Linked DNA regions of Homo sapiens. The main gene of each other region encodes a partner of the protein of the gene in region 2 in a complex. Each region holds a gene or a part of one and is shown on either strand. Other genes may lie near its edges. The genes, in order: CRHR1, GNB1, GPR21 and ADGRD1. A codon is read from its position in the direction of its gene.

Region 1 (7,720 bases), on a different chromosome or scaffold from region 2:
CTGTTATATTTATCTTTATTAGCCTCAGTGTCCAACAGTGACTGGTACCTAGTTGCTCCTCATTAAATGTTTGTTGAATGAATGCACAGATGAATGGAGTAATTAATACAATATCCCCCAATGTTCATGGGATTTTAAAGAGGCCACTTTCCTAGCCTCATGCTTCACAAACATTCCAGACCAGTGCTACTCCAAGCATGATCTACAGACCGGCACCTGTCTGCAAACTGTGTTGCCAGTTTATGACCTGGTAAGTGCAGAAATTGAGCATAAGCATTTAGACTTTTTTTTTTTTTTTTTTTTTTTTGGAGTGAGAGTTTTGCTCTTGTCACCCAGGCTGGTGTGCAATGGCGTGATCTCAGCGCACTACAACCTACGCCTCCTGGGTTCAAGCGATTCTCCTGCCTCAGCCTCCCAAGTAGCTGGGATTACAGGCATGCGCCACCATGCCCAGCTAATTTTATATTTTTAGTAGAGATGGGGTTTCTCCATGTTGGTCAGGCTGGTCTCGAACTCCCAACCTCAGGTGATCTGCCTGCCTGGGCCTCCCAAAGTGCTGGGATTATAGGCGTGAGCCATGGCACCCGACCCATGGCTCATATTTAATCTCCACAACTATTGCTATCATCCTATTTTTCAGGGGGAACTGAGGCTTATTGAAGTTAAGCAACTCCCCAAGGTCCTAGAGAGCAGTGGTAGGGCAGAGGTGGTGACCCAAGCACTTTGATCCACAGCTCACGCCTCAGCCACATCACTGGCAGAGAGTCAAGGGACTCAACAGAAACATTCATGCTAACTTCTCGGGTTCTGGAAAGCTCTATGCAGGAGGTGATGTTTGTTCTGAGCCTTGAAGAAGGCATAATGGGGAGGGGCATTCCAAGGCAGAGGCACACAGGAGGCAACCGCGTGAGGGGAGTCTGGTGAGGTTGGGCCGGGTGCGGTGGCTGGTTTCAAACTCCTGACTTCAGGTGATCCACCCTTCTCAGCCTCCCAAAGTGCTGGGATTACAGGTGTGAGCCACTGCACCTAGCTACATTTTGACATTTTTAAGCCATTAGACAGAATAGTTTTATGTCCATTTGATGTGCTAGTGTTTAAAACAGGGCTTTCATTTTGTCTTTTTTTCTTTCTTTCTTTCTTTCTTTTTTTCTTTTTTTTTTTGACTGAGTCTCACTCTGTTGCCCAGGCTGGAGTGCTGTGGCAGGATCTGGGTTCACTGCAACCTCCTCCTCCCAGGTTCCAGCGATTCTCCTGCCTCAGCCTCCCAAGTAGCTGGGATTACAGGCTCGTGCCACTATGCCCGGCTAATTTTTGTACTTTTAGTAGGGATAGGGTTTCACCATGTTGGCCAGGCTAGTCTCAAACTCCTGACCTCAAGTGATCCACCTGCCTTGGCCTCCCAAAGTACTGGGATTACAGGCAATGAGCCACCACATCTGGCCTTTTATTGCATTTTTCTAATAATTCATTCCCGCAGTGTTTTGCAATCGCATTGGCCTGTGACAGATTAGAAATTTTAAAATACAGAACCAGTTCTTTGCCACAGTTGTCTGAGAAGTATGGTTCCAGACCAGCAACCTCCCGGGGATGGTTAAGCCAGTGGAACCCCACAGGTAGGAAGTGCCTATTCAGCCCTGCCTCCCTGGGTCTCACCCATCATTACATCAAATCTGTCTCTCCTACTGTTGGGAAGGACATGTGATTGTCTTTTATTCCTGTTTGGAATCCTCACATTTCTCCTGTCTTCCAAATCTGGCAGATTAAATGAATGAAAGCTGATTCTGCTGCTGGCTGGACAGGAAGGGGTGAGAAGGCAAGGGAGGGATGGGATGAGAAGAGAGTTTGGAAAAGGCCATCCTGGGAAAAGAATGCTGGAATGGAGTAGGAGCCTATCCTGAGGAGGGTGTGCAGAGGCTGCTCTGGCTGGGGCTGAGGGAAGGAAGGGTGTAGGAGGGAGGGACAGGGCAGACACTAGCACCTTCACCAAGCCCAGCAGATGAGAGCCAGGCCCTTGAAGGTGAAAGGAAGTAGTTTCAGGACAAATGAAAGGGGATATTGAACCTTTTTACAGAAGGAATGTTAAACGCCAAACTTTCATAACCCCCCTGAGGCTGCCAAGGCCAAAACTATAAATAAGTAGGTCGAGGAATTAGGCAGAAGCCTCCTCCCCTGACCTGTCCGTCAGCGGGATGTGGTGGGGTGGAGGTTAAGTCAGTGAAATCAACACAGACAGGATGAAATGAGCTATCTGTAGACGCCACTTCAGAAAGCGAGAAGGTCTGACTCCTGGGCAAAAAAGTCAGGAAGAGCAAGACTTGATTGCAGTCCAATCAATGGCATTAGCATATTTAAAGATCATGTCAAGGGGAGGATAATGGGGCTCAGAGAGGCAAAATTTGATGGTGTTTATTAAGCAGAGAGAAACACAGAAGCTGGAGCCGTCTAGTCCTTAGAGAGTGTGCTCCAAGGTGGGACCAGGGAGGGAGCAAGGCCTTGGCTGGGCCTGGGCAAAGCTACCAGAGGACCAACCGGCTTCCTCTCCTCTGATTCCACAGCCTACTGCTGCTGGTGAATTTCTGATCAAGAATTCTGCTCCCCACAAAGAACTGCCTAGAGGGTGGGACCAAGCCACCCCTCACACTTGAGCATCCAGTCCACTCCATCGTGATGATGATGATGATCATAGTATTGGTGACTACAGCTAACCCTCATTAAGCTCTCACTATGTGCCAGGCTCCGTTCCAAGCTCTTTACAAATACCAACTCCTTCAAACTCCCCAACCACCCTCAGAAGTAGCGTTTCTACCCCGATTTTATAGATGAGAAAATTGAGGCATTGTTAAATAACTCTCCAAGTTTATACAGCTTGTAAGTGGAAAAGCCAAGATTCAAACTCAGGCCATCTGACTCCAGAACCTGCACATCAGACTGCCCCGCACTTAACTGTTGTTGGTAACAGTTAGTTGTCCATCTGCTTAGCATGTCCATCCCTTCTGGGGTTGGCTGGGGCAAGTCAGGGCCCAACTCGGCACAGCCAGCTCCGGAGCACTAACCTAATGGGGGTTTTGCAAGACTCGGGACTGTGTGCTTCACCTGGAAAGTGCCAGGTGTGTGGATAAGCCATGTGAGCAGCTGGCTTCCTGGGCAATGCCCCTCCCCACTTCAGTGTCCCAGGCCCCTTTAGGGCCCAGCCCTCCAGGCACTGTGAGCTGGGAATGAGGTGAAGGAGGACTAGGCTTACCCTCTGTGTGCCTCCATTTTCTCACCAGTAAACTGTGTGTGTTGGATCTTACGATCTTCTAAAATAACTCCAGCTCCAAATGAAGGCCAGTGGACCCATGAACACGCTGGCTCTTGCCCAGTGTGCTGAGAAGAGGGCAGGAGGGAGGAGTAGGGTGGGCACGGCAGGGCACAGGGTGCAGGGCAGGTGGGTTCAGTTTGATTTCAAAGCCGACTGCCCGCCGCCCCAGGTGCTCTGGTGTACCCAATAGGGGCTGCATTGGCCAGGCGGCCTAGGCTCTGCGGGTGGAGTGAAGATTTCTCTACCTCCCAGTTTCTCCCTTTTCAGCTCTGGTAGGAGAGAGGAAGAGTGAAGAGGAAGTCAAAAGTTCTGTTCATCTGGAAGGGCTGGGAGTTGCTTCCTGGGATGGGGAGCTCCGAAGCCAATTCAGAAGACGGCCCCGGGGTCTGGCGGGGAGGCCCACCGCTGCCCAGAGGGCTCGGCCGGCCGGGAGGGGGCGCTGTGTCCTCCCCACGCCCTGCCCGCGGGCTCCTAGCAGCGTTCGCCGCGCTGCAACGCAATGCGCGCCCGGCTTTCCCCTGGGCAGCGTTCAGTGCCCGCTTGTCCTGCAGGGCACCGCCGTCTCCCTTTCATCCTGGGGCTCCCAGGTCCAAAGGGTTCCCAGATCCAGCCTCTTGCCTGAACCAAAGTGGCCAGGCACTCAGTTTGTAAGATGAACAAATGAAGGAAAGAAGGAACGAATGAATAAGGGCTCATCTTGCAGAGCGTTCGCGTCTCAGCGCGCACCAGGCACATCAGTGCCAAAGGTGCTGGGGGTCGGGCCCAGCGCCCGGCGCGGCTGGAATGGGGGCGGCGAGGAGCTCCTCCTAGCCAGCCGCAGGGCGGGAACTGCCCAAACGCAGGTCGCAGCCTCACTGGGTTCCGCGGCGGCTCCGCTCAGTAGGGACCGCCCTGTTCCCTAGCCCCCAATAGCCTCGCCCTCATAAATTCACCTGAGCACCCTGGCCCAAGTCACCCCAGATCCCTGGGACTTCCCAGGCCCCGACCTCGGCCGGGCGGGAGGCTGATCCTTTACCGCGGCCCCCTTCCCCCATTCCCGGCTTCTCCCCGGGCTGCGGCGGCCGCCACTGCTGCCAGCGCGCCCCGAGGACTGCCGCAAACCCCGGGCGCAGGGAAAGGGGATCCTGGCGGCGGGACACAGAGAGCGGGCCGGGGGAAGGGGAGGGAACGGAGGAGGCGAGGAGGAGCTGGGAGGGAGCCGAGGGGCGAGGCGCGGAGGAGGGACCGAAGGGGAGCGGAGGGGAGAGGGAGGGGGAGGAAGGGGAGGGGACGAGCTGGGCGAGGGGGCGGGGAGCCGAGGCGAGGAGCGGCGCGGACCGTGGGGGAGGTGGCGGGGGCGAGGCCGGCAAGAGGCGGCCGCGGGCCGGGCTGCGTCGGGAAACGGCGGCCAGACTTCCCCGGGAAGGGGCGAGCGAGAGCCGGGCCGGGCCGGGCCGGGCCGCGGGGCCGGGAAGCGCCGAGCCGGGCATCTCCTCACCAGGCAGCGACCGAGGAGCCCGGCCGCCCACCCCGTGCCGCCCGAGCCCGCAGCCGCCCGCCGGTCCCTCTGGGATGTCCGTAGGACCCGGGCATTCAGGACGGTAGCCGAGCGAGCCCGAGGATGGGAGGGCACCCGCAGCTCCGTCTCGTCAAGGTAACAGCCCGCCGGCCATCCCTCGAGCGCTGGCGCCCCCGGCCCCTGGCGGACGCGGGACGGGGCTGGGCTGTGGGTGTGATGGGGGCGGGGGCGCTGGGAGAGCCGTGCTTAGGTCGGGGAAGGCTGGGCTCCGGGGCAGCCTAACTCTCTGGACCTTTGGAGCCAGGGTTGGGTAGGCAGGGGGAGACTCAGGTGAGAAAAGAAATCGTGGCGAAGCCGCCGGGATGTTGGCGGAGGAGGGGGTCCGCCCACCCGGGTAGCCGGCTCCGCGCCAAGAATCGCTCTAGGCTCTCGGGCAGACGCCTAGGGGAGGGGAGGTTCCACCTCCCACGCCCTTCCTGCAGACCTCGGCCCCGGGACTGGAGACTCTGAAGCGGGGTTCCCACCTCGCCCCAGCGCCCCCAAACAGCTCCCCGACTCCGCACGCCCCCGCCCTAGTCTTGGGAGCGCGTCCTGCCCCTTCCCCTCCGCGGCGAGCTGCGAGTCCGGAGAGATGAATGCCGCCCGCGCCTGCGAGCCCTTGATCAATATCGCAGTCTCGGGGGAGGAGACGGTGCCTCTGGCGGCAGTTCCTGTTCCCCGACCGCGGCTGGGAGCGCGACGCTCGTTCTCCGAGCCTGGGCACCCGCGATCCCCGCGCTGCGCGGCCGACCCTGCGACGCGGATCGGGCGCTGGAGTTTAGGAAAGTAGCCAGACCGCACGTCCAGCGTCTGCCCGCTGAAGTTCGTGGGCGGTGGGGGCGGCCCGCGGGTTGTGTGAGCCAGGGAAGGGCCGGGAGGCCGGCAGTCCGGCCCGCCGCTCGTGTCAGGCGTCACTTGCAGCCCCAAGCGCTTTCCAGAGCGTTTTGGTTTTGCAGGGTATAGGCGCGCCCGCTGCAGCCGGCCGGAGAGGCGGGTGGGCCTCTGCGCTGCTGCCGGGACACCCCGCTTCGCGCCAGTCTGGGCATCGCCTCACCCGGGGCTCGGGACTCCGCAGGGTCCGCTCCAGCCACAAACATAGACACCAGCTTGACCCGGCTCAGGGCATTCAGAGCGATTACATTCAAGAGACTTCGGTGGATTTGGGGGAGGGGTGCGGATTGGCGGAATTTCATTTTTCCATCAGTTATTAAACCAACTGTACGTATACCGGCTTACCAAGTGGTTTGAGTTAAACCACCAAGATTTTTAAATGCAGCAGCTGCTGCTTCCTTAGTTGAGACGTTACAAGTTACTGAGATTTTTCTCTAATCCTGCCCCTCCCCAAATATTTATAAATTGATTCTTAAAATGATCAAGGGTTGGTCTTACTGAACCCACATCCCCTCCCCCATCCGTTACCTGAGGGCTAGGGATGAACTCAGATTATTTTCTGGGCGTTCGAGGAGACAGACAGGTGAGGAAGGTAGAAGAAAAACATCCAGAGAGGTCGAGTAGTTGGCACTGAATGGGAATAGTTTCCAAAAGGCTCGCGTGTACCGAAGCCTGGTCTAAATGCACAAACCAGTTAGACCAAATTCAGTCTTTTAAATGGATTCAAAGAACTGAACTGCGGGTGTTTTCTTTTCTTTTTTTTTTTTTCAGGTTTACGCGGAAATAGATCAATGTTCTTTTTCTGGCCTTTCATAGAATTGTGTGCAAATCTCTGTTTAGAATGATCATGTTTTCCTTAAAAAAGTCTTTTTATTTCCTTTGTTCCTACTAGATGGTGGGGTGTTTGCCCTTTATGCCTGGCCTAATAAACTCAGTAGGCATTCAATAAATTCCAGATGAATGTGGGGCAGTGAGTGAATGGCCAGCGAATGCTGGTTTCAAACGTTGGTTACAATTAAATAGTTGCTTTTCTTCTTTTATTTATGTAGCATGTACAATTCACTGGGCATTATTCTACCTGCTTTGCAAATATTAAGTCATTTAGTCCTCCTAACAGCCCTAGGAAGTAGGAATTATTCCTGAGACACAGAGAGGCTAAGTAACTGGTTCAAGGTCACACAGCCAGTGAGTAGTGAAGTCAGAATTCAAACCCAGACACTCTGATAAAAGGCTTTGTTTTGTTTGCTTTTACCAGAAAATATCCTTTTTTTTTTTTTTTTTTTTCAAGACAGGGTCCCACTCTGTCGCCCAGGTTGGAGTGTAATGGTGTGATCATGGCTCACTGAAGCCTCAACCTCCCTAGGCTCTGGTGATCCTCCCACCCCAGCCTCCAGAATAGCTGGGACCACAGGCATGCACCACCACACCCAGCTAATCTTTGTATTTTTTGTAGAGATGGGGTTTCCCCATATTGCCCTGGCTGGTCTCAAACTCCTGGGCTCAAGCGATCAGCCAGCCTCGGCCTCCCAAAGTGCTAGGATTACAGGCATGAGCCACCATGCCCGGCCATTACCAGAAAATATTCGAAGCCACCTAAATCTCACTCTAGAGCTCAGCCAGATGAGAGCTCAGGTAGTTTTGTCAGCATGAGAGTACAAATCTAGGGGATTTAGGGTTAATCCCAAATCCAGCTCCATCCCCAACAAGTCAGCCAGTGTTGGGAAAGGGTCCACTCTGGGGCCTATATTGTGGGCCTCACACTATAACAGTTACAGAGTCCTGGGGGAAAATGTGTGTGAATGGGGAGAGACAGGGTGTGTGAAAGTGTGTGTGTGAGTGGGGAGAGACGATGTGTGTACAAGTGGCCATGAGTCAGGAGAAGACAGACAAGACATTGTCTCTATCCCCAGGGAGGGGCAGGGGCCTGAGCACCTCGGAGTCAGCCACACACCCACTGCATCTCCTCGTAGGGAGATGGAGTGTGGCTGTAA
Region 2 (7,071 bases):
AGAAAAAAAAAAAAAATATATATATATGTATATATATACCCACAAACATGCGCATTGCACTCCCGCCTGGGTGACGGATGGAGACTCTGCCTCAAAAAACAAAACAAAACACAAATAAAGCTACATGAGAGGCCAGGCACCGTGGTTCACGCCTATAATCCCAGCACTTTGGGAGGCTAAGGCGGGTGGATCACCTGAGGTCAGGAGTTTGAGACCAGCCTGCCCAATATGGTGAAACCCTGTCTCTGCCAAAAATACAAAAGTTAACTAGGCTTCATGGTGGGTGCCTGTAATCCCAGCTACTCAGGAGGCTGAGGCAGGATAATCGCTTGAACCCAGGAGGCAGAGGTTGCAGTGAGCCAAGATTGCACCACTGCACTCCAACCTGGGTGACAGAGTGAGACTCTGTCTCAAAAAAACAAACAAAAAAGAAAACTACATGCAAGGCCCACAATGATTACTTGTTATGTATGTATGTATTAATGTATCAGATGTACATTTGTAATATGTTTATCAATATATTTGTACTAAAAGGCAACTTTTTTTTTTTTTTTTTTTTTTTGAGACTGGGTCTCACTCTGTCGTCCAGGCTAGAATGCAGTGGTGCGATCCTAGCTTACTGAAGCCTTGAACTGCTGTGCTCAAGCAATCCTCCTGCCTCAGCCTCCTGAGTAGCTGGTACCACAGGTGCACATCACTGTGCCCAGCTAATTTTTAAAAAATATTTTTTGTGGGCCGGGCGCGGTGGCTCAGGCCTGTAATCCCAGCACTTTGGGAGGCTGAGGTGGGCGGATCACGAGGTCAGGAGATCGAGACCATCCTGGCTAACTCAATGAAACCCTGTCTCAACTAAAAATACAAAAAATAAGCCAGGCGCGGTGGCAGGTGCCTGTAGTCCCAGCTATTTGGGAGGCTGAGGCAGGAGAATGGCATGAACCCAGGAGGCAGAGCTTGCAGTTAGCCGAGATCCTCCAGCCTGGGTGACAGAGCGAGACTCCATCTCAAAAAATATATATATATATTTTTTTGTGGAGACAGGGTCTCCCTTTGTTGCCCATGTTGGTTTCAAACTCCTGGACTTAACCAATCCTCTTATCTCAGCCTCCCAAAGTGCTGGGGTTACAGGCATGAGCCACCACCCTCCCTCCTTTGAGTAAAATGAAGGGCATTAGGTGTTTTGATTTTTGACAGCTACTTTCAGGGTCCTGGAGCCTGTTAGCTTGCTTCCTGGCCCTTGCCTCTATGTTCTAGGTGAGTGGCACCTCAGATAATTGATTTTTGAGTAGGTAAAGGCACTACTAGGCAACGTGAACCCAGCTTTCCAACAGCTCCCTGACCCGGGACTAGGAGGCATGTCTTCTCTCACCTTCTGGAGGATCAGTGGACAGCTTACGTGTCCCTAATCCCTCTGGAAGTCAGCAGTTATTAAGCTCTCTGACCGGGAGACCTCTGTAAAGGTGATCCTCCTAATCTAGGAGGATGAGCTGCTTTAGATCAGCTCTGATACTCGACAGAAAGTCTCAGAAGGGCTGGGCAGAAATAAAGCTAGAGTGGGAACATGATACCATTACGTAGAAATAATTTTAAATGTTTAATATGTTGATGACAACCTGGATTGAGAAGTTTGCTTTAAGAATTGCAACTGAAGGCTGGGTGCGGTGGCTTACGCCTGTAATCCCAGCCGAGGCAGGCAGATTGAGCTCAGGAGTTCGAGACCAGCATGGCAAAACCCTGTCTCTACTAAAAATACAAAAAAGTAGCCAGGCATGGTGGTGCACACCTGTAATTCCAGCTAATGGGAAGGCTGACGCACGAGAATTGCTTGCATCTGGGAGGCAGAGGTTGCAGCGAGCTCCAGCCTGGGTGACAGAGTGAGACTCTCTCTCAAAAAAAAAAAAAAAAAAAAAATTGCATCTGAAAAATAATAGGATGGGAGCCTGCACTTAGTTTTTAGTTCTGTGATAAATTTTGTAATAAAGTGCAGGTGAAAAGGTTTTTATTTGTTCTTAAACTCATTGACACCTGTATCAAAACATCTAGTTTGATATTAAAAGTGTCAGAGTTATCAACAAAACTTGAGAGAGCGTTACTCCAGCTTTAGGTCAGCTTTAAGAAGCCACATATGTTCACAGCTGAAATAGTTAAAACCTGTGTTTTGAGGCGCTGTGGCTTATGTCTGTAATCCCAACACTTTGGGAGGCCAAGGTGGGCGGATCACTTGAGGCCAGGAGTTGGAGACCAGCCTGGGTAACATGGGGAAACCCCATCTCTACTAAAAATACAAAAATTAGCCAGGTGTGGTGGCACGTACCTGTAATCCCAGCTACTTGGGAGGCTGAGGCATGAGAATCACTTGAACCCAGGAGATAGAGGTTGCAGTGAGCTGAGATCACACCACTGCACTCCAGCCTGGGTGACAGAGCGAGACTCTGTCTCAAACAAACAAACAAACAAAAACAAACAAACAAAAAACCTTGCGTTTGATAGAAACTTTAAAATTAAAAATCCTTATACTATCATTTACCGTACTGACAGATATCCCTGCATCAAACAGTGGAACCTTCTTGCTCTTCCTTGAAAACAGCATTCTGTGCTACAGGGTTCCTTAGGACCTCTCATAAGCAACTGTGGTTCCCAGGAGTTACCTTTCACCCACCTTACTTGCCTGCTAAGGTGAAATTCTTTTGCTCCTTATTCATATTCTCCTTTGTAGTATGGAGCTCCTTTTCAACATGTGGATTCCGAACTGAGCACAGTTGCCAGAGCAAGGAAATAGTTATGAAAAAATTCATGGTCGGGCGCAGTGGCTCAACGCTTGTAATACCAAAACGTTGGGAGGCCGAGGTGGGCGGATCACCTGAGGGTCGGGAGTTCGAGACCAGCCTGATTAACGTGGAGAAACCCCGTCTCTACTAAAAATACAAAATTAGCTGGCTGTGGTGGCGCGTGTCTGTAATCCCAGCTACTTTGGAGGCTGAGGCAGGAAAATTGCTCAAATCTGGGAAGTGGAGGTTGCGGTGAGCCGACGCACCATTGCACTCCAGCCTGGGCAACAAAAGCAAAACTCCATCTCAAAAACAAAAAAAAGAGGCCGGGCGTGGTGGCTCCCGCCTGTAATCCCAGCACTTTGGGAGGCTGAGGTGGGCAGATCACGAGGTCAGGAGATCGAGACCATCCTGGCTAACATGGTGAGACCCTGTCTCTGCTAAAAATACAAAAAGAATTAGCTGGGCGTGATGGTGGGCGCCTGTAGTCCCAGCTACTCGGGAGACTGGGGCAGGAGAATGGCATGAACCCCGGAGGCGGAGCTTGCAGTGAGCCGAGATGGCGCCACTGCACTGCAGCCTGGGCCACGGAGCGAGACTCCGTCTCAAAAAAAAAAAAGAAAAAAAGAAAAAATTCGTGATAGTTACTGGTCTCTGCTCCCGGACCATGCGCAGTGGTGCTGTTGTTTACCAAGCAGGTGAGGAGGGAACGCCTCCTTTGGTTTCTAGGAGACCTTGATTCCAATTTTAGCTCAGTCTGGGAAATTTCATGGGGTATTTTGGGTGAGAAATGTTTCATGAATTTGGAATGTCTAAAAGTGGTTTGTTCTTTCTGTTTGTTTTTTTTTTTTTTTTTTTTTTTTTTTTTTCAGTCAGGATCTCGCTCTGTTGCCCAGGCTAGAGTGCAGTGGCGCAATCTTGGCTCACTGCAACCCCCGCCTCCTGGGTTCAAGCAGTTTTCCCACCTCAGCCTCCTGAGTAGCTAGGATTACAGGCATGCACTACCATACCCAGCTATTTTTTTGTGTTTTTGTAGTGGAGACGGGATTTTACCATGCTAGCATGAGGCCATGCTGGTCTCAAACTCCTGTGATCCACCTACCTTGGCCTCCCAAAGTGTTGGGATTAAAGACATGAGCCTCTAATTTGATTTGTAATGAAACCAAACAGAAACACTTATGAAATGATGTCAGCCTGTCTCAGCTGACAAAGGGAATGGGTGCCAGGGGTGATGTGGCCTGCATTCGGTTGGGGCCAGGCATCTCCACTCTCAACTGTGGTCTGTGACAGTGTTTTTGTTCATGCTTTGAAGTTGGTCTGACATTTAGAGCCTTCCTTTCCTTTCTTTCTTTCTTTCTTGAAACAGAGTCTCACTCTGTTGCCCAGGCTGGTGTCCAGTGGCATGATTGTGGCTCACTGTAACCTCCGCTTCCTAGGTTCAAGCGATTCTTCTGCCTCAGCCTCCCGAGTAGCTGGGATTACAGAGACGCACTACCATGCCCGGCTAATTTTTGTATTTTTAATAGAGACAGGGTTTCGCCATGCTGGCCAGGCTGGTCTTGAACTCCTGACCTCATGTGATCTGCCCACCTCAGCCTCCCAAAGTGCTGGGATTACAAACGTGAGCAACTGTGCCCGACCAGAGATTTTTTTTCTTATAAATAAGTGGCTTTGTCTGAAGCACATGTAACATGGGAGCACATAAGCCACCAGAGTCTGGGTTTTAGTCTGTTGCTCTTGTACACTTTCTGTGTTGTGCGGTACTGATAGGTTTGCTTTTGTCTGTCCCTCCAGGCTTCTCGTCAGTGCCTCGCAGGATGGTAAACTTATCATCTGGGACAGCTACACCACCAACAAGGTAGGGACTGGAGGATTCCCTTCCTTGAAAAACCAACCCAGGAAACAGGGTTTTAAGCTCTGGATTCATTTTGTTAAATCACGTAATACAGGATAGGGAAGGCAGCAGCGGCAAGCTCTGTTTGTTAGTAGTGAAGTTGCGCAGGTGAGATAGAAGCTGAGTCACGTGCCACCTGTCACGGTCTCTTCCTCTGGACCAGGCACAGTTGTGCTGTTGTCCGTCATCTCCTTACCAAGCTGGTGGGAGCTAAGGACCTTCTGTGTTTCTAGGAGACCTCAATTCCAGTTTTAGCAGAGTCTGGGAAGTTTCATGTTTTATTTATAGAGTGCAGAAGTATCACTTTTCATTCAGTTACAAGTTTTTAGAAGAGATCATCTGAAAGACATCATACTTTAAAGTGTAATTTATGTTATTTTCAAGACTTAATCCAAAGTGTATTGTTTTGAATAAAAAGTATTGTCATTGGTCCAAACATGTATGTAAAAGATGTAATTCAGTTTATTTTACTAAAGAATACTAAATGTGTATAAATGATTGCATTAATTACAGCAGATCTAAAACAGTGGGAGAGATGTGGCAGGGTAGATTGTAGGAATGTCCATTTTGGTTATTCCATAAAAATCTTTTGTTTTCGGCTGGGCGCCGTGGCTCACACCTGTAATTCCAGCATTTTGGGAGGCTGAAGCAGGTGGATCACCTGAGGTCAGGAGTTTGAGACCAGCCTAGCCAACATGGTGAAACCTCGTCTCTACTAAAAATACAAAAAATTAGCCAGGAGTGGTGGCAGGCGCCTGTAATCCCAGCTACTCAGGAGGCTGAAGCAGGAGAATTGCTTGAGCCCAGGAGGCAGAGGTTGCAGTGAGCCTAGATCACGCCACTGCACTCAAACCTGGGCAACAAGAGCGAAACTCCATCTCGAAAAAAAAATTTTTTGTTTTCAGATGAGTTCATAGCCATTTGACAGGATAATGCAGTGTTTTCCTTCCAATACGTGTGGGTTTTTTTGTGTTTTTGAGACGGAGCATTGCTCTTACCGCCCTGGCTGGAGTGCAGTGGCGTGATCTCTGCTCACTGCAGCCTCCACCCCCCTGGTTCAAGCGACTCTCCTGCTTCAGCCTCCTTGAGTAGCTGGGATTACAGGCGCCCACCACCACACCCAGCTAATTTTTGTATTTTAGCACAGACAGGGTTTCACCAATTTGAGGCCAGGCTGGTCTCGAATTCCTGACCTCAGGTGATCCACCCGCCTTAGCCTCCCAAAGTGCTAGGATTACAGGCATGAGCCACCGCACCCGGCCTGTTTGTTTTCTTTTGAGACGGAGTCTCGCTCTGTTGCCCAGGCTGGAGTGCAGTGGCGTGATCTCAGCTCACTGCAACCTCCGCCTCCCGGGTTCAAGTGATTCTCCTGCCCCAGTCACTCAAGTAGCTGAAACTACAGGCATGCGCCATCACGCCCAGCTAATTTTGGTATATTTAGTAGAGACATGGGGTTTCACCATGTTGGCTAAGCTGGTCTTGAACTCCTGACCTCAGGTGATCTGCCCGACTTAGCCTCCCAAAGTGCTGGGATTACAGGCGTGAGTGACCGCACCCGGCCTAATGTGGTTTTGATGAGTGGGCAGCACTACTGTTAAGACTCCACCTAATCATAAGTTGTGACTTCAGTAAAACTGGACTGTGTGGATTGAATTTGAATCCCATGTGCAGCACTGGACTTCTCATTAAGTATGCTTCACCTGAGTGGCCACATATGGGAATCGCTCTCTAGATAATTTTGGCTCTTATTTTGTTCTGTTACCTCCTTTGCAGTGAAAGTTGGAGATGAGAAAATCCTGGTGTCAGTGTTGTTTTTGAACATAAAGTTGTTTGCATCATCTGTCTTTCTGTCATTAGGTCCACGCCATCCCTCTGCGCTCCTCCTGGGTCATGACCTGTGCATATGCCCCTTCTGGGAACTATGTGGCCTGCGGTGGCCTGGATAACATTTGCTCCATTTACAATCTGAAAACTCGTGAGGGGAACGTGCGCGTGAGTCGTGAGCTGGCAGGACACACAGGTACCTGTCCTTGTTCATAAGCTTCAAGTGACACAAGCTGTTTACCTGGGGTACATTATATGCTTTGGATACTCACTTTTTATCAATCATTTTTTAATTAATTAATTAATTATTTTTTTTGAGGCGGAGTCTCGCTCTGTCACCCAGGCTGGAGTGCGGTGGCGTGATCTCGGCTCACTGCACGCTCCGCCTCCTGGGTGTTCACGCCATTCCCCTGCCTCAGCCTCCTGAGTAGCTGGGACTACAGGCGCCCACCACCACGCCCAGCTAATTTCTTTTTTGTATTTTTAGTAGAGACAGGGTTTCACCGTGTTAGCCAGGATGGTCTCGATCTCCTAACCTCGTGATCCACCCACCTCAGCCTCCCAAAGTGCTGGGATTACAGGTGTGAG
Region 3 (7,155 bases), on a different chromosome or scaffold from region 2:
TGTTTATGTGTTCACATTATTCACCCTACTGAGAATTCTCTCAAGAGAATAAAACACAGAACATTTGGCTTTCTAAATGACAGTGTTGAAACTTGCAGTGTAGTTATGCTTTGGCATACATAAAAAGTAATTTCTAAAACCTTTTCATTTATATTTTACTATTCCGTTAGAAGAAATCAATTGCATATGAAGCCCAAATAGCTGGAAAGAGCCCAGAAAGTGACAAGAAAGTGATGACTTTTTAAAATGCTGACGCTTTTCACACTCAGGTTCAGTCATGCCAGCTGGAAAGAGGTGTTAGATATGGCTTTATTCATTTTAAATCTGAGAACTGTAGTCATTTCCAAGACATTTCAAAAATTGAGAGCAAGAGCAATTTGTCTTCATGATCTTGAGTCTTCTAATTCACAAGCACTTTTGAAAACCATTTCTACAAACTTAGAAGGTATCCATACGAATAATTTGTATGCTATTGTTTAGAGTCAAAGTATTCTGTCCCAGATTTCCTAGTGAATTAGGAATACTTAGAGATAAAATACACACACACACACACACACACACACACACACACACACACACACGGGAACCCCGTAACTGAGCCACTTCAGATATGACATCCATTAAGAGGGCCTTTGCTTCTAACTGTGTAAGGGTCGTTGGCTGTAGTCTGACTTGCACAAGAAGTACACATAGCCCCTGAGAGGCGCTTTAGTCCTCTTTGGAATACACTGTTGGAGAGACTATAAATTACACAGTTGCAGAAACTGTTACTAATAGCAAGCCAGGTGGTCAAGAAGGATGCGAAGCGGTTGCTGTGGCCAGTGGAGCTTTCCAACAAGAAGTAGATGATATATGGCAACCAGAGGATGTAAAATACACTAGTGATTCGAAACAGGACCATGGCATAGCGCTTATCAGGACAGGCCTGCACTTCCCCAGTCTCCCCACTCTGGCTGCTGAAGCGGGCTTGCCTTTCGCTGATATCCTTTGTGTGCTGTTGGCAGATGCGGAAGATGTTGAAATAGGTGAAGCAGACAATAAGGGCTGCTGGGGCATATAACATCATCACGATGAACAGGGTGAAGTAGGAGTCGGTGTGCCAGGACTCCGCACACCACTGAAACACATCTCCATGATATCCAGGTTTGCCCCAGTGGAAAAAGGAAGGCAGGAAGACCAGGGTCGAGTATAGCCAAATCAGGAAAATACACAGGCGTAGTCTCCAGGGTGTAACCAGAGTATTATAGGTTAAAGGTTTAGTAATGGCAATGTATCTATCAATGCTGATACAGGCCAGAGAAGCCATGGAGACGCTCTTCAGAACTGATACTACAAAACCAAATATCTGGCAAGTCAAGGACTCCTCTACTGGAAGGGGGTGATGGAGGAGTGATAAAGAAGGGACCACGCAGCTCACCCCAACAAAAAGGTCAGCATATGCCATAGTCTGGATAAAATAACTTGTAGTGTGATGGTTCAACAAAGGTGCACAGTGAAATACAAAAATCACAATGATGTTGCCAGAAATAATCAATACAGTTAGAAAGACAATAATCAATACTTCCAAAAGGCAAAAATTGACAGTTTCCAAATAGCCAAATGCCAAGAGGCAAAAAGGGTGGCTGCTCTGATTACCATCCAAGGTGGAGTTCATCTTGAGCTCAGGAGTGATCTGTCACTTCATGCTGCCGCTTGGCTGCTGCCAACAGTTCAAAGAAGCAGCTGCTGTCATTGCGGTCAGCTTTGCATGTGTGTAATAATGCCAGAGGAGCCTTACTCCCCAAGCTCCTGATGCTGCTGCTCTGGTGCATTGCCTGCAGTGCAATTCCCCTTTAAATCCTTCCTGGAATAAGGAGAGCCAGCAGCAGTTGTCTGGCCAGTCCCAGACGCGGCCATAGTGCCAGGTTCACCATACACATAGCACCAGGGGAGCAAGGTAAACTCTGGGGAGAACGTCTTCAGGCCAAGTGAGGGTAGGGGGAAAGGGTAGAAGAGAAGGGAAGAAGATTAGGAGCTTCAGCAGGAGTTGTAATGAGTCTCCTCTGAACAGCTGATAGAAGAAAAGGAGAGAGCATTTTACATTTCACATCCAATGCCCTAATCAAAGAACCTGGCTAGCTCAGGCTGGCATCATCCCTCCCGCTCCACCCCTACTGGCACCACTATTCACGGCTACCCTCAATAGCACCCCACACAACTGATCTGTACTGTATAGAGGAGCAGCAGCAACATCAAGCTTTCAAGATCAGCATAAAACAAAACCAATCACAGTCAGATTAATTTACCCCCATTTCCTTTCATTTGAGACGGGGGAGAAAAGGAATTTGCTTATAATATTTAGGAAAACCTTTCACTACAATTACCACTAATAAAATTAGCCAAGATAATTTACTTTCTTCATTGATTCCAATATAATATTTTGCCTCTTTGAAAACATTTCAACAGAATTTACTGTTTAGTTCAATTTCAGAATGTTACCTGTAATTCTGCATGCTGCAATCCAAACAAAAGCCACAATACATCCTTAGCAGAAAGCCTTGCAAAGCAGGAATGTGCTTCAACCCGCGTACTGCAGAACTAAGACACGGAGGGAGGAGATAAAGGAGTAGGAGGGGAAACAGGGAGAAGAGGGGGCTTGGGAAAAGGAAGAAAGGGGGAGGGGAAAGAAAAAGCCTGTACGTGCACACACTCTGGCATCTTTAGCAACTAATTGGAATTCATCGTCAGAGAGGTGCCCCGATTTCCAGACTGCACAGTGTGGGAATGGCTTGCTATGCCTGCAGTGCACCATTTGAAGGCTGTTTCCTCGTCTGTCTGGAATCCCCCTTTTAGTAGATAAGCAGAATTCAGGGTGCTAGCAAGGAGAAGGGGTAGTAACAGAACAGGGTGTCAGGAATTAGACTGAAACACACTACCAGAGGGGTAATTTCTATTTTCTCACGGCATTTTCCCAAAGAACAAAGAGCAATATTAAAGAAAGGAAGTATGTTAACTTCCTTTAAGTGTATGGCGTATGGCAACTGAGAATCATAATTCAGCTGCACAAGAAGTTCTAGCTAGAAGGCTATTCACCATTAATTTTGTCTCTCATGATTCACTGAATATTGGCCAAGAAACTTTAAGATCACTTTTTCAAGAGAAAAATAAAGTATCTCCCATTCTGAATACTACACAAATAGCACAGATAAATTACACTGTTCCCATATTTGACACTACGCTATAATTTTGAGATGCATTTCTTGCTTCTAATTTGCTGAGCAGTAAACAAGAATACAAACAGAAGATAGAAAAGTAAATGTACCTTCTTCTACTCAGGCATGGATATTACAGGAAGTTTCATGGTACAAATAAGCCTTTGTATCTTAGAATATACAATCTTGCTTCTGCCTATTTAAAACAATGCAAACTGTATCATATTATATTGTGGTTTTCCTGGTAATGTCATAAATGATGACAATTTTCAGCTAACAGAGTTGGGTGCTATGAAAATGTGTAATTTTAGTATCTTTATTTAGAAGGATTAATTGAAAGTATCCAGCAGAATAAAAGACAATAAACAAATGCCGGCATTTGAAAGCATTCCAAGAGGTAGGCAACTGAGTAAAAACATGTGATCCAACTTTCATTTTTATTCATTTTATACACATGCTTTCTAATTACAGACAAATGGCCACCCATAATCAGAATGCGATGAATTACATTTTAAATCTGAAGCAGCAGCAGTTGTCTGGCCAGTCCCAGACGCGGCCATAGCCCCAAAATAAAAAACCTATTTAACCGTAATCCTGATAGTAATATTTGACAGGTCTTATTGGGAAACAGAGCGAAGTGTGTGGCACAGTAAAAAGACCAATAGCATCGAAGGAACAATAATCAGGTTCAAATTCTTGCTCTAATATTACTTATCCTCTCTTAAGCCTCTGTTTCATCATCTGTAAAATGAGAACAACACTCCTTACTTCACAGGGTTGTTGAGAAATAAAGTATATAAAAAAGGCTTACCAACACCTAGCACAGAGGGGGTATATAACTTTACTCACTTTCTGCTCCTACAACTAAAGTAGCCTTCCTTAAGAGCCAGTGTTTTCCTGCCCATCATGTTGAAATGCTTAAGGCTGGGCTCCTCTGAATCCTGAAGGGCCTGCTCTTACTGAGGCTATACAGTTCTAGGTCATACAACAGCTATCTGAATACAGTGCTGTCACACATTACTCAAATACATTGAGGCTATGCATATACAAAGCACTGAAGGTAGCTGAAAAGAAGGAATGATGACATGGCGTCAATTATTCCCTCAACATAAATAATTTCTCTGCCTAGGTCTCCAGCCCTGACTTCACTCCTAAGCTCCCTTTTCCATCTACAATTTGCCTGCTAGTCACACATTTTCCACCAGTAGATGGAAGATGTCCTGTAGATGTCCTGTAGAGATTTCAACCACAGCATGTCTAAAATCAAAAACCTTTTTCCCACCAAATAAGCCTCTGTATTTTTCCAACATTTTCCCAGGCACTCCGGTATGAAACTTAGGAATCAATCACCTTGACCACTCTCTCCCTCAAAGCACTTAGTTCTGAGTCACCAAGTCCTGAAAATGTATTTCCACAATAGTTCTCAAATGCATTTCCTCCTTTCAATTTTTAATACACTTACCATAGAAGATGATTACCACCTAAACTTACAGTTTTGTTCATTTTTCTAATTTTTTCTTTTCTGTCTGGTTAAATATCCAAAATGTACATTTTATTATTGTACCCCATTGTTCAAGAGTCAATGGCTCCTTTACTGCCTTTCTAGTCTGATCTCAACTGTTTTACTTCCCCCAAATAACCTGCCCTCCAGCCAAATCAGATTACTTCTATACACTTGCCATAGACTTTATTTTTAAACCATATTTACTGAGCACCTTAATAAATACGGAATAAAGGAGTGATTTTTGAGAGTTACTGCTGTATTTCAATAAACAGAAAAAGTGTTCACCAAAGTCAAAAGTCTAGGCTTTTCTACTACTACTTGTGAATTTGGGCATGAAACTTATTCTCTCTGTGGTTTCCCATGTATAAAACAAGACAGTTACGCTGATAAAAACAGACAATACAATGGCTGAAAATTTGAAAGAATTCAAAATTTATAAAATTGCAACAAAACTACAAGCTGTTACATTACTGCCATTAGTACAGTAACAGTTCTTTCAACTTTGTTTCTATTTTAGTGAAACCACTCTAGGAGCTAAAATCAAAATATTCATTTAAGAAACTTTAAAAAAAAAAGACTAATAGCCACATTTAACTGAATCAATCAGGAATTAAATGTTTTGCTTTGGATTAAAGAAAAACATTTTCTTCAAAAGACACAATTTATTAACAACTTGGGGAGGCTCTATAAATTTGTATCCTTACAGAAATCCACATGTACATTTGGTCTTTAACCATAACATAGACTCATTCTAGTGTTCCATACCACTCTAGGAAGACTATAGTTAATACTATGTAGTTTCAAATAGCTAGAAGGAGGTTACTGAATGTTCCCAACACAGAGAAATGATAAATGTTGATAAATGTTAGAGATGATGGGTATGTGCACAATTACCATGATCTGATCAGTATATACTATATGTATCAAAACATCCTTATATACCTCATAAGTATGTATGTTATATGCTGATTAAAAAATACAATAAAAAATAAAATAATGCAGTCTCATGATATATTCTCTCTATATTTACTTTGAAGGCTGAGTAACTTTCTATATATATATGACTAAAAGGAAATACATTAAAAATCAACACTATTATTGGATGGTGGGATAACATTCATTAAAAAATCTTTCTTCTTTATAGCTTTCTATATTTTCTGAATTTTCCAATTTCTATATACTCTCAGAACCATATTGATTTAGCAAGATAGAATGATGCTGGGTTGAAGTTGTCTACTTCATGGGGCTCTGTTCCACTTGTTCTTATGCCATCAGAGCAACATTCCTTCAGACAGTCTTTGGTACTCAATCTAACTCAAAATGGACTCCCAAAATGTCAGTTAAAACCTCTTACAGAACAAGAATATAATTACGAACTTACCGATACTTAACCATTTCATTGCTAGCTAAATACTTTCTGACCTGCAAACACGCCAATTTCTATATGGTTCAACCTAATGAAATTAAAACAACTTTAAAAGCCAAAATAATTAAAATAACAAAATGACAGGCTTAAAAAGAAAAGCAGAACGAGAAATGAAATGTAACAAAAAAAGGAAAAGACCTGTTCAAATTATATTTCTTTTTCTCCCAACCTATTCAGAGACTTAACTACTTGTAGATGATAAATTATCTCAGTTCTTCAAATTCCTAAGCTTCACCTCTGGGCATTAGTGTCAACTACCACTTATTATTTGGTAAAAATGAGCTTCACTTTTTGTCTGACATCTTAGCAAGGCTGCAGTGTTCGCCACTGCTCTCCGAGCTTCACGATGCCACCCAAGGACTACAAGAAGAAGACAGACACTGGAAAGTCAGCCAAGAAAGACAAAGACCCAGTGAACAAACCCGGGGGCAAGGCCAAAAAGAAGAAATGGTCCAAAGGCAAAGTTAGGGACAAGCTCAATACCTTGTCTTGTTTGACAAAGCTACATATGACAAACTCTGTAAGGAAGTTCCCAACTATAAACTTATAACTCCAGTTGTGGTCTCTAAGAGACTGAAGATTTGAGGTTCCCTGGCCAGGGCAGCCCTTCTGGAGCTCCTTAGTAAAGGACTTATCAAACTGGTTTCAAAGCACAGAGCTCAAGTAATTTACACCAGAAATACCAAGGGCAGAGATGCTCCAGCTGCTGGTGAAGATGCATGAACAGGTCCAAGCAACTCTACATTTGGAAAAATAAAACTTTATTAAGTAAAAAAAAAAAATGAGCTTTAAACATTGATTAATTAACATATTATTTTAGTGCAGCTGATGTGAGTTTATTTATGTAACTGTCATTCCAAAAATGATTTGAGATACTTTGACTCATCTTTTATTCCTCCCTCGCCCTCATCTCCCACATTCATTCAGTCATCAAGTGAGTGCCAAGGACTCTACCTCTGAAATCCTCTTAAATAGCATCTTTTTCCCCATCCCTTTGCCACTACACCCCAATCCAAGTTGAAATTATCTCTTGC
Region 4 (7,071 bases), on a different chromosome or scaffold from region 2:
AAGCAAAAAAGAATCTTATATCTAGAAAAACTACTTTTTAAAAATGAAGGTGAAATAAAGGGATTTCCAGATAAACAACAAATGAATCTGTTGCTAGCAGACATGCCTTACAAGAAATAACAAAGAAAGTTCTCCAGGCTGAAAGCAAATGACCCCAAAAAGTAATCTTAACACACACAGAAACATACATACACATAGCAAGCAACACCACCAGATGGAAACTCAAATTCACAGGAAAAAATACAGAGAACCAGAAATGGAAATCAGAAGGTTAATGTAACTCTATAAATATGTACTTGCTCTCCTTTTATCCCAGCTTCTTTAAAAGATACAAGATTAAAGAAATAGTTACAAAAATGTATTATTGAATTGTGCCTTATACAGATGTAACATGTATAGCAATAATCAGAGAACAAAGGAAAAGAGAATATGCCTATATAAAAATAATGTTTATATCTTATAATTTAGTATAAATTTGGAATAGATTCTAATATGCTAAGATGTATATAGTAAGCATTAGGTCAATCGCTAAGAAAATAACCAAAAAAAAAAAGTGAAAAAAATCATTAAGAGAATTAAAGTGTTACACTAGGAAATATTCACTTAATTCAAAAGAAAGAAGTAAAGGAAGAATAGAGAAACAAAACAGATAGTAGACATATAGAAAACAAAGAGAAAAATTGTTGATGTGAATCCACCCTATGTGTCATAACATTACATGGGAAAGGATTAAATGACCCAGCCAAAAGGCAGAAATTGCCAGACAATTTTTTAAAAATCCAGTTGTATTCTGTTTACAGGAGATATACCTTAGGTTCAAAGATACAAATAAGTGGAAAGTAAAAGGATGGAAAATATATATGCTCTGCAAACAGCAACTGCAAGAAAGCTGGAGCGAGTCTACTAATCATATGGGACGAACAGACTTTAAAACAAAACATAATACTAGAGATGAAGAGATGTTTTATAAATGTAAAAGGGTCAACTCATCAGAAAGATGTAAGTATAAACAGAACCCCAAGCAACAGGAAACAACATCAACAAATTGAAGGGAGAAATACACAATACAACAAGTGGTGACTTCAATACTTCAGTAATGGACAGAACAACTAGAAAAAGGATCAGCGATGAAATAGAAGACTTGAACAACACTATAAACCAACTTAGGCCTAACAGGTATCTGTAGACCACTCCATCCAACAGCAGAATATACATTCTTCTCAAGGGCATATGGAACACTTTCCAGGATAGATACTTACTAAGGCATAAAACAAACCCTAATACAGTTAAAAGGACTGAAGTCATACAAAATATGTTGTCTTTCCACAATGAAATAAAATTAGACATCAATAATAGAAAAAAGTGAGAAACTCATGAATATGTACAAATTAAACAACATAAATAATCAATGGGTCAAATAAAAATTAAATAAATTTGAAAATACTTTGAGATGAATTTAAAATGAAGACACAAAACATACAGGATGCAGCTAAAGCAGTGAGTAGAGGGAAATATATAACTATACATGCCTATATTAAAAAAGAAAATCTCAACTCAGTAACCTCAACTTTCACTTCGACACACTGGAAAAGAAGAAGAAACTAAAGCTAAAATAAGCAAAAGAAAGGAAATAATGAAGATTGAAGCAGAAATTAAAGAAACGGATAATAGAAAAACAAAAAAGAAAATCAAACCAAAAGTTGGTTCTTTGAAAAGATCACCAAAATTGATAAACCAAGTCAGGAATGTTGGAAATGTTTCCAAGTGATGGGGACTTTTTGCCTTTGATTAGCCAGTGGATTCTCCTTCCTATTTGGGTCTCTAGGAGGCACCAAGAAGGATAATATGAAGATGAAAGCACATCTGACTTTCCCTGTCCCATCCGATCAAACCCCATTCCCACCTCCCCCCATCCCCACCTGCCCCTTCTGTCCCCACTTCCACCTGTCTCATCCTGTCCTACCTGCCCCATCCCCACCTGTCTCTTCCTGTCCCTCCCGCCCCGCCATCCCACCTGCCCTGCCCCACCTACCCCATCCCATCCCATAGTAGTAACGGTGCTTGCTGTCCTCCGACCCAAAGACCTTGATCACCATGCTGTAGAGGTGCAGCCCCTCCACCAGCATCCATGCGAAGGCACTCAGGAAGAAGTAGTGTAGGAGCACGGCCATCACTTGGCAGGGGGTCTAGGATTTAACCAGAGATGGGAAGTGAGACAGCTCTGGGGTGGGCCCTGGGCGTGGCTATGATCCCAGCCTCCCAGTATCCATGTCCTGGGTGGTCTTTTGGTCATGTGACCATGTTTCTTCCCAGGGTATCTTCCTGTTGCTCAAGCCCAGGGATTTGGGTGTAGCGCTTGACTCAGGGCTAGCCAATTACAGCACCATGTTGCCCCCAGGGATGGTGATTGGTTCAGGAGAGGGCACAGGACTCAGGCCCAACCAATCAGCAAAACTATCCATTCCTTGCAACAGGATTGGCTCAGGGATGGGCACATGACTCACCTGGTCCAATCAGGGTGGATTCTGGGGCTAAGGCAGGGACTATGGAAGAGTTTCCCTCCCTTCAAGTGAGGACTGGAGCAAGGAACTTTGGAAGCCACGTGGCTCCCAGAGAGGTGTGGAGCCTGCCGCCTGCCATGTGGCTGAACCCTACATGCTGGGACTTCTAGTTCTAACTAAATTGACTGCAGCTTCCAAGTTGTAGTTACCCAGAACTGAAAGGGGCTCAGGCGACCATGCTGCTCCATAGGCTTCCCCTCAATAGGGCTCAGGGACAGAAAGGCAGGGCCTTGGGAACCTCTCCATTCCTTGCCTGGGGCCTGGAGGCCCCAGGTGCCCAGGACGGAGAGAGTTGGGCCCTGCACAGTGCAGCCTCAGATCCTCCTGGGGCTCCACTCCTCTGCTCCCTGTGAGTCCAGGTGCTGGGAACAGCCAGGGCGTGTCCCTTAGCTCTAGATAAAAGGTCCAGGAAACCAGAGCCCAGGAAGGAACACAAACCAAGGACCCCAGGACAACCCAGCTCTGCTGGCGCTCCAAGTTCTGTCCTTCAGATACGCCCAAGGCAGTTAGTTCTCAGAGAAGAAATGTACAAGCCACTAAATGTGTTTCTTGTCATCATGATCTGTTATATCTAGATACAAAATAAGACATACCTATTATTTTTGTTGGCTCAGCAACCCCTGGCCCTGTGTCTTCCAGGACCAGCTGCCCCTTTTCCTTGGGGAGCAGCCCCTTCCTACCCCAGAGGCTCTGGTGGGACCAACCATTACAATCATCCTCTCCCATCTGGGCACAAAGGTTTACCCTGTAGGCATATCACTCAAACAGGACCAACTGGAGCCCTTCCCTGGGATTCTGACCCAGGTCTCTGGGAGAGCGGGACCCATCAGAGCCCTTCCCTGGGATTCAGACACGGGTCTCTGGGAGAGCGGGACCCATCAGAGCCCTTCCCTGGGATTTAGACACGGGTCTCTGGGAGAGCAGGACCCATCAGAGCCCTTCCCTGCGATTTAGACACGGGTCTCTGGGAGAGCGGGACCCATCAGAGCCCTTCCCTGGGATTTAGCCACAGGTCTCTGGGAGAGCGGGACCCATCAGAGCCCTTCGCTGGGATTCAGACACAGGTCTCTGGGAAAGCAGGACCCATCAGAGCCCTTCCCTGGGATTCAGACACAGGTCTCTGGGAGAGCGGGACCCATCAGAGCCCTTCCCTGGGATTCAGACACAGGTCTCTGGGAAAGCGGGACCCATCAGAGCCCTTCCCTGGGATTGAGACACAGGGTTCTGGAGGAAAGATGCTCTCCCAGTCCCCTAGGGCCACCAGCTGGGATTATAGACACCTGGAGCTGCTGCAGACCTGCCTCCCCTCCTGCTGCCAGCACACAGTGGGACCTTGCTCCCCAGTATGGACTTGAACAGGCAGCGTCAGCATCACCTGAATGATTGATAGAAATACAGCATTCTGAGCTCCACCCAGAGCTCCTAAACCAAAATCTGCACTGTAAGGAATCCTCATGGGAGGTTTCACACCGGAGCCTGAGAAGCGTCCAGCAGGAGAACATGAGGCCAGTGCACACCCCATCCATTCCACGGTGCATCCAGGAACTTCTCAGATGCTCCCGAGTCTGAGGTGGGGTGCCCTGTGAGGGAGGTGCTTGCTGCCACATGAAGGTGGGTCTGTCCATAGGCAGCAGCCCCAGGACATGCATGGGGACAAAGGGCTCTGCTGGGCAGTGAGGAGGAGAGGCTCTGCTGACCCGCTAGGCATGGGATAAAGCGTTCATCTTCTGTTGGCCAATCCTGATTGCACCCTAAGACCACAGGCTTATCCTGCTGGGTTCCTAAGAGCTTCTGCCAGAACCAGCTCCCTTTTTCCTCCCACACATGGAGCAGGCAGCCCTCTGTTTTTCTCTTCCATCAACTAGCTTACAAGCCCACATCATTCCACTGCTGGGTCACTTCAGAGAGTCTCAGCTCTTTGCCTTCTGTGAGGTCTAAGACTTCTTAGGGCCCCAGAGAACCCCCCACTCCATGCAAAGGGCAGGGAAAGATGGCATCTAGGTCTGCAGGTCTGCTTCGCTGAACAGAGGTGGCACAACTGTTTGCTGTCAAGCAGCTGATGAAGGGCACAGCCTGCAGCCAATAAGAGTCTTGGTCTGCCCACACCAGGCCGTCAGCTTGGCCAAGGACTGTGAGCCCTGTGCCCCAATTCCTTTATCTGTAGGCTGAGAGGATGACAGCTGGTTAGAGGGTGACATGGCTTCACAGATGCAAGCCCTTGTCATGGTGCCTCGCGCGTAGCTGGTGCTAGGCAGTGTGAGTGGGTGGCGGCAGCGGCAGCTTTACCCGAGGCTGGCGTGCAGCACAGAAACCAGCTCATGCACGTCACGATCTCTGCTTCCCCCGAGAAAACCACAGCCCTGGTTGTCTGGGGAGATGGGTTCTGAAATTTGAGTTGAAAAAGCTAGCAGAAGGTGCCACCCGGTGACATCCGAGGAGGCAAGGGAAGGACAGCGCAGGAACACGGAGCTGCGCCCACTCACCGTGCCCGGCTCGAGGCGGAAACTAATGAGCAGCAGGACCTGGGCCACCAGCACGGCGAAGGACAGGTTGGCGTGGATGTGGTAGCGCTGGTTCCGGATGGTGCTCACGGAGCTGAGGACAGAGGCAGGGTGTGAGGCCTGGGCCCTGCGCCGACCCAGTCCCCCAGGCTGGGCTCCCTGGCCCCACGAAGTCCCTATATCCATTCCTCCAAGAGCAGCCAGAGGGGTTGCTGTCACTCCCTGCTGTGGACCATCGATGGCTCCCTATTGCTCTTGGATCTGACCCCAGCTCCTTCCATGCCCACACAGCCCTACACAGTCTGACCCTGGGCCATGGCTCTGCTCTGAGTTCCTTTCTTTCCCAGCTCATGTTCCTGCTTCTCAAAGCCCCAGCTTATTCCAGCTGTGGGGCCTTTGCATAGCTGTTCCCATGCAGTAAACCCTCTCCCAGGTCCCCGCATGGCGGCCCAAATGTCTCCCTCAGCGTAAGCTTCCTGACCACTGCTGGGACCTAGCTGCACCCCTCGCTCTCTGCCCTGCTGCCTCGTGGCGTGATCACAGTGAAGATGTTTGTTCTCGCTTTTGTTTACTTGGTTATTGTCCAGCCCCCATCCAAGCATGTTCTCATCTCTCTTGGGCACAGTCGGGCCCTCAAAGCCGACCACACGCCTGTGCTGAGGAACGTGGGAGCGAGAGTGAATATCTGAGCACAGGGCTGAGGTGTCCCCAGGCCCATGGCCATCCCCTTTTGCCTGGCTCGGGTTCCACCAGAATTCCTGTGCCTGGGCTGGGGGCCTTTCCAGACCTTTCCAGCTAAGCCTGGTGCTCTTACCTCCACAGCCCCTCCCCTCTCCCGTGTCTCTTCCATCTTGAGATCTGGGTGCAGGCAGGGGCCGAGAGACTGTTGGGTGGATTAGAAAAGGGGACTCACGACAGCACGGCGAAGGTGACCAGCGTGGCCACCAGGCAGAGCACGGAGAGGGAGCAGCCCACATAGCTGATAGACGACAGCGCCACCTGGTGTCCGCGTGCAAGCTGCGGGGAGCAGAGCAGAGGCGTCAGCAGCAGGCCCAGGCACCCCATCGGAGCCTGAAGCTGCAGAGGGCCCAGGTGGGTGCACAGCTGGTCCCCTGTGAGTGTGGTGCTGACCACCAAGCCTGCCTCCCAGCCCAAATGTCTGTTGCTGCCACCGACAGAGGCCGGTGCTGGGGTTGCAGCCCTGGTTCTGTGCGTGCATGTCCGGTGCCCCGAGGTGCCCTACAGAACACTGAGGCTCCCTCAGCCACAGTCTCCAGACTGTGGCTGCCTGGCCCGGGCAGGCGCTGAGCCTCCTGTCTACACTGCAATACACAGGGCTGCAGACTAACAGTCAGCCCCAGAGCCAGACCTCCCGGGTTCAAGTCCCAGCTGGGCCACGTCCTGGCTGACAATCTGGGCCATGTGACACTCGGCTGTGAAATGAAAATAATGACCCCTCTCCATTCCCACAGTGGCCGCAAGGACTCCATGAATTTACAAACATAAAGTGCTGGAGCAGCTAGGGAAGAGCTGGTTACCGCCCCGGCCTGAGGCCACGACCCTCCCAGTCCCCGCACAAAGTAGTGCTAGGGAAGAGCTGGCTACCGCCCCCGCCTGAGGCCACAACCCTCCCAGTCCCCGCACAATGGCTGCCGCCTGCACACTGTGGGCCTCAGGAAAGCTCTCTAAATGGACACGGTGGTGATCGCCAGCACCCGTGTCTGCTGGGTCCCAACACCTTGTGGGAATGAGGCAGAACAGAACACACCTGGGGATTAAGCGGCTGCAGGGCCACAAAGGATAGAACCGAAGCCGCAGTTCACCGACCGCACAATCCAGACGGCGCCCCCTCGGTTCTGAAGTCGGGGCCTCAAGCTCAGACACATGTGACCCTGCGCTCCAGGAGGCTCCGGGCTCCTAAGCCACAGGCCTGGAAGGGCAGCCTCCCAGCTGCTCACGTGCAGGAGGGCGCCACGTGCTTCCTCCTGTGGCCCATGGCTCTTGTCAGA

What was found.
Region 1: the proteins of GNB1 (region 2) and CRHR1 are in contact, whole or in part, in a cryo-EM structure (PDB 6PB0), measured with the Homo sapiens proteins. Residues at the interface, in NP_001269468.1 of Homo sapiens: Arg42, Arg46, Arg52, Phe292, Val307, Ala309, Gly310, His311, Asp312, Phe335; in NP_004373.2 of Homo sapiens: Arg145, Ser146, Lys376, Arg380, Asp383, Lys384, Ser386.
Region 3: the proteins of GNB1 (region 2) and GPR21 are in contact, whole or in part, in a cryo-EM structure (PDB 8HJ1), measured with the Homo sapiens proteins. Residues at the interface, in NP_001269468.1 of Homo sapiens: Gln44, Arg46, Thr50, Arg52, Ala309, Gly310, His311, Asp312, Asp333, Phe335, Lys337; in NP_005285.1 of Homo sapiens: Pro57 (codon at 1,486), Leu58 (codon at 1,483), His61 (codon at 1,474), Arg313 (codon at 718), Arg317 (codon at 706), Thr324 (codon at 685).
Region 4: the proteins of GNB1 (region 2) and ADGRD1 are in contact, whole or in part, in a cryo-EM structure (PDB 7EPT), measured with the Homo sapiens proteins. Residues at the interface, in NP_001269468.1 of Homo sapiens: Arg52, Asp291, Val307, Ala309, Gly310, His311, Asp312, Asp333, Phe335; in NP_942122.2 of Homo sapiens: Ser593 (codon at 5,155), Val594 (codon at 5,152), Ser595 (codon at 5,149), Arg598 (codon at 5,140), His819, Lys822, Val823, Leu826.

The regions. Positions count from the first base shown.
Region 1 is NC_000017.11:45,779,644-45,787,363, forward strand, and holds the start of CRHR1 (corticotropin-releasing factor receptor 1 isoform 2 precursor), read left to right. Parts: upstream 1-4,676; 5' UTR 4,677-4,901; coding exon 4,902-4,934; intron 4,935-7,720.
Region 2 is NC_000001.11:1,804,027-1,811,097, reverse strand, and holds part of GNB1 (guanine nucleotide-binding protein G(I)/G(S)/G(T) subunit beta-1), read left to right. Parts: intron 1-4,559; coding exon 4,560-4,623; intron 4,624-6,516; coding exon 6,517-6,679; intron 6,680-7,071. UniProt on the Homo sapiens protein: Guanine nucleotide-binding proteins (G proteins) are involved as a modulator or transducer in various transmembrane signaling systems.
Region 3 is NC_000009.12:123,029,066-123,036,220, reverse strand, and holds GPR21 (probable G-protein coupled receptor 21), read right to left. Parts: upstream 2,555-7,155; 5' UTR 2,479-2,554; intron 2,051-2,478; 5' UTR 1,655-2,050; coding exon 605-1,654; 3' UTR 556-604; downstream 1-555. UniProt on the Homo sapiens protein: Orphan receptor.
Region 4 is NC_000012.12:131,103,839-131,110,909, reverse strand, and holds part of ADGRD1 (adhesion G-protein coupled receptor D1 isoform 1 precursor), read right to left. Parts: intron 6,080-7,071; coding exon 5,976-6,079; intron 5,157-5,975; coding exon 5,045-5,156; intron 2,187-5,044; coding exon 2,033-2,186; intron 1-2,032. UniProt on the Homo sapiens protein: Adhesion G-protein coupled receptor (aGPCR) for androgen hormone 5alpha-dihydrotestosterone (5alpha-DHT), also named 17beta-hydroxy-5alpha-androstan-3-one, the most potent hormone among androgens. Also activated by methenolone drug.